2 separate regions of the Homo sapiens genome follow, and region 1 is linked to region 2. The links come from fine-mapping of genetic effects on gene expression. A gene starts in region 2. The other region holds a variant in brackets. All regions are shown on one strand. Distances are between the middles of the regions.

Region 1 (4,384 bases), 32 kb before region 2:
CCTTCAATTTGAGAGTTTTTTTTTTTTTTTTTTTTTTTTTTTTCTGAGATGGAATTTTGCTTGTCGCCCAGGCTGGAGTGCAATGGACCATCTTGGCTCAGTGCAACCTCCGCCTCCTGGGTTCAAGCAATTCTCCTACCTAAGCCTCCTGAGTAGCTGGGACTACAGGCATGTGCCACTATGCCTGGCTAATTTTTTTGTATTTTTAGTAGAGACAGGGTTTCAACCATGTTGGCCAGGCTGGTCTCAAACTCCTGACCTCAGGTGACACCCGCCTCGGCCTCTCAAATTACATGCCTATAGTCACAGCTACTCAGAAGGCTGAGACAGGAGGATCGATTGAGCCGAAGGTCGAGGCTGCAGTGAGCCATGATTGCACTGCTGTGCTCCAGCATGGGCGATTCTGTCAAAAAAAAAAAAAAAAAGAAAGAAAGAAAAAAAGAAATACATGAAGTGGCCGTAAGTGCTATGAAGAAAATGAGGCAGCATAGGAGGATAGAATAATGACGGCTGCTATTTAGGGAGGGTACTCAGGGAAGCCTTGCCCCCTCTCTTAAGAGATAAAATTTGAAGAATGTGGGTAAGTCATGTGCCTACCTGAAGGAAGAGTAATTTAGACAAAAGAACCAGCAAATGCAAAGACCCTGAGGTAGAAATGTGTTTGGTGGGTTCAAGGAGCCTGGAGCAAAGTGACAGGGGAAGAATGGCAAGGGGCGAGAGAGAGAGAGAGAGGAGGGTAGGGTCGCATCACAGGACCTCAGAGGTCCTTATGGGGATTTGGGCTTTTACCCTGGGTGATTTGGGACCCACTGGAAGGTTCTGAGCAGAGGAGTGACATGATCAGAATTACATGTGAAAAGAATCTCTACTGTGTTGAGAATAGCTTAAGGTAGACACGTGTGGAAACAGATGTGAAGGAAGCAGAGGAGGAGACATGAGAGATGGTGGTAGTTTGTTCCAAAGTGTTGCTGATGGGAACAGAGAGAAGTGGTCAGACCCTGGATACATATTGAAGGAATAGCGAGCGACAGGATTTGCTGATGAATTGGATGTGGGGTATGATAGAAAACGGAAGGAGGCCAGGTATAGTAGCTCACACCTGTAATCCCAGCACTTTAGGAGGTCAAGTAGTTGGGACTATAGGCACACACCACCACACCTGGCTTTTTTTTTTCCCCCACTTTTTTTTTTTGAGATGGAGTTTCGCTCTTGATGCCCAGGCTTGGAATGCAATGGCACGATCTTGGCTCACTGCAACCTCTGCCTCCTGGGTTCAAGTGATTCTCCTGCCTCAGCCTCCCAAGTAGCTGGGATTATAGGCATGTGCCACCATGCCCAGCTGATTTTTTTTATATTTTTAGTAGAGATGGGGTTTCACCATGTTGGTCAGGCTGGTCTCGAACTTCTGACCTCAAGTGATCCACCCACCTGGGCCTTCCAAAGTGCAAGGATTACAGGTGTGAGCCACCATGCCTGGCCTCACCTGGCTAATTTTTAAGAATTTTTGGGAGCCAGGTGCAGTGGCTCACGCCTGTAATCCCAGCACTTTGGGAAGCTGAGGTGGGCAGATCACCTGAAGTCAGGAGTTCGAGACCAGCCTAGCCAACATGGTGAAACCCTGTCTCTACTAAAAATACAAAAATTAGCCTGGCATAGCGGTGCGCACCTGTAATCCCAGATACTCAGAAGGCTGAGGCAGGAGGATCACTTGAACCCAGGAGGTGGAGGTTGCAGTGAGCCAAGATTGCACTACTGCACTCCAGCCTGGGCAACAGAGTGAGACTCTGTCTCAAAAAAAAAAAAAAGAATTTTTTGTAGAAGTAGGGTTTCACTATGTCACCCAGGCTAGTCTCAAACTCCTGGGCTAAGGCAGTCTTCTCACTTCGATCTCCCAAAGTGCCAGGATTACAGACATAAACCACCACGCCCAGCC[G/A]AAAAAAAAAATTTTTTTTTTTTGAGATGGAGTTTTGCTCTTTTTGCCCAGGCTCGAGTGCAGTGGTGCAATCTCGGCTCACTGCAACCTCCGCCTCCTGGGTTTAAGCGATTCTCCTGCCTCAGGCTCCCAAGTAGCTGGGATTACAGGTGTCCACCAACACGCCTGGCTAATTTTTTGCATTTTTAGTAGAGACGGGGTTTCACCATGTTGGCCAGGCTGGTCTCGAACTCCTGACGTCAGGTGATCCACCCACCTCGGCCTCTCAAATTACTGGGATTCCAGGTGTGAGCCACAATGCCCAGCCAAGTTTTTGTTTTTAATCAAAATAATTAAAATAAAATGGAAGTCAAGGAGATAATTTAGACCTTGTACAAAGAAGGTCCAGGAAGGATTTCATCACATTGCATCACATTGAGGGCACAACAGGGTTTGTACACCTCTGCATTCAGTACCTCATTTCTTCACTGCTAGTGCAGAGAATGTCTAGGTGCTTGGCTTCCCAGTGGGATGATGGACAAGACTGAAGGGAAGAAGGGAGGTCCATGGAGGCAGGGAGGCTCAAAGGCAGCACTGAAGCTTGTCAAATGAGGCAGCAAGAAGGTCCTAGGAAGACTTAGGCATCCAGATTTGATCATGTGTGTGAACCATTGAGGGCTGAAGGGTGAAATGACAGAAGGAAGTCTGGAAAGCTAAGCTGGTGTCATATGCAGGAAGAAGGAAGCTGAAGGCTGTGGCCTGGGTTGGAACTAGTTTGCTGGAAGTGAGTGTACAAAAAAGTAGGTGACAAGTGGCCTTGTGGTGAAGGAAAAACTTCCAGTTTCGTAGTAAAATGAACATGGGGGAAAGAAGAGTGTCAGCCAATTTGGAGCCCTCAAGTCTCATGAACAGCATGACATGGCAGTCTAGGCCGGAGTGCTTTTTTTTTTTTTCTTTTTTAATCTTGAGACAGAGTCTCGCTCTTGTTGCCCAGGCTGGAGTACAATAGCACGATCTTGGCTCACTGCAACCTCCGCCTCCCGGGTTCAAGCGATTCTCCTGCCTCAGCCTCCCAAGTAGCTGAGATTACAGGTGCCCGCCACCAGGCCTGGCTAATTTTTGTATTTTTAGAAGAGACGCTGTTTCACCGTGTTGGCCAGGCTGGTCTCGAACTCCTGATCTCAAGTGATCCACCCACCTTGGCCTCCCAAAGTGCTGGGATTATAGGTGTGAGCCACTGCGCCCAGCCGGCCAGAGTGTCTTTTATGGGGCTTAGATAGAGCAAGGAATCCAGTTTGGGAGTACCCTGCTGGGGTGACAGTGAAATTGTGCTGGAGGAAGAGGTGCCAGTAACAGCAGGTACAGTTTCAGCAACTCTTCTCTCTGACTCCTCTGTTCTCAGGTCCCAGGGCCTCTAGACCATAGTTTCAGGTCACCCTCAAGTGTCTCCTCTTCATTTAGACCTCCAATCTAACTAACCTCAGGCCCGATGTTGGGGCCTTCTAGCAAGAACTGTGGAGCCCAGACTTTACCATGTGAAGTTGGTGGCTATAGTGCCTGGCTGAAGGCTTGGTGCCCAACCCACACCCTAATCTTATCTGCCCAGAGGGTACCTCTGTAGAGTGCCAGGCCCAGGACCCACAGGGCCCAGGCAGCATCTTAGCCAGAACCTGTGGGCAGAGGAGAGGAAAGAGGCTGGAGATGTCAGCAGGAAGAGAACCCCAGTGCCCCACTCTTAAGTTTACATCTCTATCTGTGACCACTGCTACCTTCTTCTCCCAGAAAATCAGATACTGATTCCTCTTTCAATAAAATTTTATTTTAAGTCCTTAGTGAATATCTAAGAGGAAAATATAAAGTGCTTGGCTTTAGAGTTGGGAGGTCAGGGAAGAGGGAAAGGCCCCCTGGGTTCACACCATTTGGAATTTCCTAGTCCCTTACAGATGAAAGAGGGCGTATATCTCAAAATTAAAAAAAAAAAAGGATAAAAAATTAGCCTTGAGTTCTCCACCAGCCAGTGTGTGCGAGGATTTTCAGGACACGATTATCACGGACAACTACTGAGAATTATCACAAAGAGGACAGGTCAATCGTGTGAAGAATGAGTCTACTTCAAAGGAGACAGGAAGAACAAAGAGGTGAGGTGGAAGATGGGTCCCCCAGGCTCTACACCAGGGACAGAATGGCTGCCTGCTGCTCTGGAGTCTGCTCCAGCAAGTATCGGGCAAAGGCCTGCTCCATCTGTATTGGAAGAGATGGAGAAGAGCATCTCAGTGCGTGCATCAGGGACAGACACCACCCCCAGGAGCTCCTTCCCCACTGGGAGACCCCCTTTGCCTCCTGGAGCACCACTGTCTCTGCTCTCATTAGATGGGTACTCTACCCCTGCTCCGAGCTCACCTTCACTGTGATAAGATTCTGTGGAGTATGGCTGGAGCCATGGCTCTCTTCCCAGAAATTCAGTGTTACCTG
Region 2 (4,384 bases):
GGGGGAGGGCTTACCAGGTTGAGCTGCTCAATGACATCCTTGATCTCAGGCTTCAAGCGCTGCAGAAGGACCACGATCTTTTCATTGCAGTTCACTGGGCCACAGGGAGGACCTAGAGAGTGAGCAATGGGTCAGTCACATGATTGAGCCTGTGTGAGGGGCGAAGGGGAGACTGGAAAGAAATCCTTAGGAGGAGCTCCTGTGAGTGGGACTCAAGTCTCTTCCCACCATTGTGGTTTCAAGTACCTTTGTCTTCATCCTCCCCCTTCTTCTTTTCATCCTTGTCTTCCTTCTGCAGAAAGAGAGGAGCTCATGAGAGTCAGGACTAAGGTTGATTACCCCCATAGTTGGATCCCTTCTCCCAGGTCTTCCCAGCTTGCCTCCTGCTGTTTCTTCCGCTCCTCTTTCTCTTTCTCCTTGACTGGATCAGGCACTGGGATGTCCAATGGGGCCTTCAGATTGCTCAAGTTGGCTTCATTGAGAGCTGGCTCCTGGTGTAGGGTGGGAGGAGGGCTGGAGGTGAGGGAGTTCCTCTCACCTCACTCTCACAGCCTCCAGACTCTTCTCTTGGCCTTTACTCCCTAGCTCCCTGCCCAGCCGCGGTACCTTTAAAAATGCATCCAGCTCAGAAATCTTCTTGGGGAAATAGCTCCCGAGCAGGTTCTCTGTCTGTGTGTGAGGTGGGGGTGGAGGAGGATGGGAGTCAGCATCAAATGCCCGTCCTAGGTAGTGAGGCAGGGTTGAGCAGTAGGAGTTGGGCAGGGGTGGGGCCACGCTGATGGGGCATGTCTTACCTTGGTACAGAGGTCTTCACGAAACACATCCACCTGTGGGGCACACGCATCCCTTCAGAAACTTGGCTTTAAGGCCAGTTCATTTGAGGACAGTTCCCTTAGGGTTATGTAGGGCCTGACCTGGGGAAGGGTGGAGGGGATCCCTCTAAGGCCAGACCTGAAGAAAGCGAGATGGATGCCTGTAGGGTGGGTTGGGGTGGTGGAGAAGGTGGATCTCTGCAGACCTGGATCTACGGAAAGTGGAGTGGGTATCCCTGGGGCTGGATATGGGGGATGAGAACATTCCTGGCGGTGAAGGGCCAGTGTTCACGTGAGAACAGATCTCTGGGGTCGCCTGGCAGGTGTGAGGAGGGGTGCTGAGAGTCCTCTGCAAGTAGGACAGGGATGGGGTGGGCCCCGGGACCCTCCCTGAGGGAAAGGCCAGAAGGTAGCTGGGGCAGTCCCGCACCCAGTCTGTGTGTGGCCCCGGCCCCAGGCCAGCGGAGTTCCCCTCCACGCCAGCTCTCCGCTTCACCTCACCCCGCAGAACCACGGCCGCCTCGCCTCTCCCCGCAGGCAGCAGTCGCCGCCCTCCCCGGGGCGCAGGTGCTCCGGGCGCGCCAGCTCGGCCGACTGCCCCCGACTCGCGTGGGAGCCTGGGGGGCGGGTCGGGGATGCCCCCGGCCGCTCCAGCCACGCCTCCCCAGTGGGCCCTTTCTAGACCCCGCGGCGCTCACCTTGGCTTGGGCCTCGGGCTGGACCCTGAGCATGGCCATGACCGGGACGGGGGGCCTAGCGCCGCACAAGGAGTGGAGTGGGCACCGCGAAGGGAAAGCGAAAGCGGTAGGGCGCTCGCACCCAGCTCCGCCTTCCTGGGTAGTGGGGCGGGGAGGGCTGGAGGAGGCGGGGTCGGATGGAGGAGGCGGGGTCAGCCCTGCCATGGAAGGGGCGGTGCCGCAGAGGAGGGCGGCGGGTGAGGCTCCGCCTAGCGCGCACAGGCGCTCTTCACCCACCCTCCCCGCGCCGCCTCGCGAGGGCCAGCTTCCAGGCTCCCCACCTCCGCTGGCCCGGTCCCCGCCTCCCGCCTCCCGCCACCTGCCGCCCGCCGCCTGAGGACGGCGGGTCCGGGTCCTCCCATCGCCAAGCCCAAGCCAGTCTCTCCGCGTCCCAACCTCCACCTCCCGCCTCCCAACTGGCTCCCCACCTGCTCTCTTCTTCCCCTGCTCCGCCTGGGACAGATAAGCTTTACTTAGGGCTCTTCCGTCTTTCCCTAGAGATGGAATAAGACCTGGCCTGTCTTTCCTAGCCTTGCTAGCGTGGGCCTCTGGCTCTGCCGACATCCTGCGCACCTGTAGCAACACCGGCACCAGAGCTGGCAGCATCCCTATCCAAGCCCGGACCAACTCTCTCCTGGACCACGGCTGCAGATGCCATTCTATAACCCACTCTCACGGAGCAGCGGGTTCATGCCTCTCTCTGGCTTAAAACCCTTTCTCAGCTGCCTGTTGACCTTTGAATGAAATCCAAAAGGCTGTCGCACCTGTCTCCCCTTTAAGTCCACTTTCTACTGCTTGCCCCTTCATTCATTACACTTGCAAATATTTGGGCTATTTGTTTCTCAGATGTGTCATGTTCATTTCTGCCTCAGGGCCTTTGCCCTTGCTAATAATCCCTTTGCCTAAAACACCCTTACCCTGGGTGTTGTCATTCGGTTCTCAGTTTAGATGTCACCTCTTCAGAGAGAACTATTTTCATCATCCTTTATAAGGAACCTCCCTCCAAATCTATTACAAATCATCCTGTTTTAGTACATTCATAGCATTTATCTCTCTGATATTAGCCAGGTGTTTTTTTTTTTTTTTCCAGGATAATTTACTGATTTAAACCAGGTTTTGGCAAACGTGTGTGTGTGTGTGTGTGTGTGTGTGTGTGTTGGGGGACGGAGTCTCGCTCTGTCGCCCAGGGTGGAGTGCAGTGGCACCATCTAGGCTCACTGCAACCTCCACCTCCAGGGTTCAAGCGATTCTCCTGCTTCAGCCTACGGAGTAGCTAGGACTACAGGCGCGTCCCACCACGCCCGGCTAATTTTTTGTATTTTTAGTAGAGACGGGGTTTCACCATGTTAGCCAGGATGGACTCGATCTCCTGACCTCGTGATCCGCCCGCCTCGGCCTCCCAAAGTGCTGGGATTGCAGGCATGAGCCACCGCGTCTGGCCAACTTTTTCTATAAAGGGCCAGAGAGTAAATATTTTAGGCTTTATAGGCCTTACAGTGTCTGTCTACTCAACTCTGCCATTGTAGTAGGAAAGCTGCCATATGTAAATGAATTAGTTTGGTGAGATAACATTTTATAGACACTGGAATTTGAATTTCATGTAACTTTCTCCTGTAATAAAATATTCTTATTCTTTTGCTTTTTCAACCATTAAAAAATGTAAAAATGGCCGGGCACAGTGACTCACGCCTCTAATCCCAGCACTTTGGGAGGCCAAGGCAGGCAGATCACTTGAGGTCAGAAGTTCGAGACCAGCCTGGCCAACATGGTGAAACCCTGTGCCTACTAAAAATACAAACACTAGACGGGTGTGGTGGTGGGGGCCTGTAATCCCAGCTACTCGGGAGGCTGAGACAGGAGATCGCTTGAACCTGAGAGGTGGAGGTTGCAGTGAGCCAGAATTGCACTCCAGCCTGGGCAACAGAGTGAGACTCTGTCTCCAAAAAAATAATAAAAATAAAATAAAAATAAAAATGTAAAAAATGTTTTACCTTTTAAAAAAAATTTTTATACAGACAGGGTCTCACCATCTTGCCCAGGCTGGTCTCAAACTCCTGGGCTCAAGTGATCCTCTTGCCTCAGCCTCCCAAAGTGCTGGGATTACACTGCCATCACTGCCAGGTCTCTGTCTTTAAAAAAAAATTATATATATATTATATATGCAAATATTATATATAAAATATATAATAATATATATAATATATAAATATATATATTATACATATATAATTATTAGCTCGCAGGTCATACAAAACTGGCCACAGGAGGGCCAAAGTTTGCTAATTCCTGGTTTAGAGGATAGATGATATACCCATATTATCTAGCTTTGTAATCATGGCTCCTCTGTTTATTAGTTGTGAACAAGTTACTTAACCTCTGTGTCTCAGTGTTTGCAACTGTACAATGGGAACACTACTATCTCAATTTTTTTTTTTTTTTGCCAATCAAGATCAGTACAACCTACCTCATACTTTTATTGTTGTGAGGACCAAATGTGTTAACTTTTTTTTTTTTGAGATGGAATTTCACTCTTGTTGCCCAGGATGGAGTGCAGTGGTGCAACCTCAGCTCGTTGCAACCTCCGCCTCCCGGGTTCAAGGGATTCTCCTGACTCAGCCTCCCAAGTAGCTGGGATTACAGGCGCCCGCCACCACACCCAAGTAATTTTTTTTTTTTTTTTTTGTATTTTTAGTGGAGATGGAGTTTCACCATGTTGGCCAGGCTGGTTTTGAACTCCTGACCTCAAGTGATCTGCCCACCTCGGCCTCCCAAAGTGCTAGGATTATAGGCGTGAGCCACCGCGCCCGGCCATATGCGTTAACTTTTATAAAGAAC

The links. PIP is the estimated chance that this variant, and not a neighbour inherited with it, causes the effect.
Region 1: its variant is the best candidate, but not a certain one, in a credible set for the expression of PSME1 in neutrophils (BLUEPRINT, PIP 0.75).

Annotation. Positions count from the first base shown.
Region 1 is chr14:24,165,891-24,170,274 of GRCh38, reverse strand. It overlaps IRF9 (interferon regulatory factor 9), which reads right to left. Exons shown (of 9, transcript NM_006084.5): 8 at 4,313-4,384; 9 at 3,710-4,153. The coding sequence ends at 4,079. Among named protein-coding and RNA genes, the nearest start is that of REC8, 4.0 kb to the left of the region's middle. The variant G/A (reference allele first, on the strand shown) is at 1,934.
Region 2 is chr14:24,133,428-24,137,811 of GRCh38, reverse strand. PSME1 (proteasome activator subunit 1) reads right to left here and starts at 1,618. Exons shown (of 11, transcript NM_006263.4): 1 at 1,511-1,618; 2 at 795-827; 3 at 607-669; 4 at 381-491; 5 at 247-292; 6 at 15-112. The coding sequence starts at 1,549. RefSeq lists silencers at 1,285-1,574, 1,625-2,044.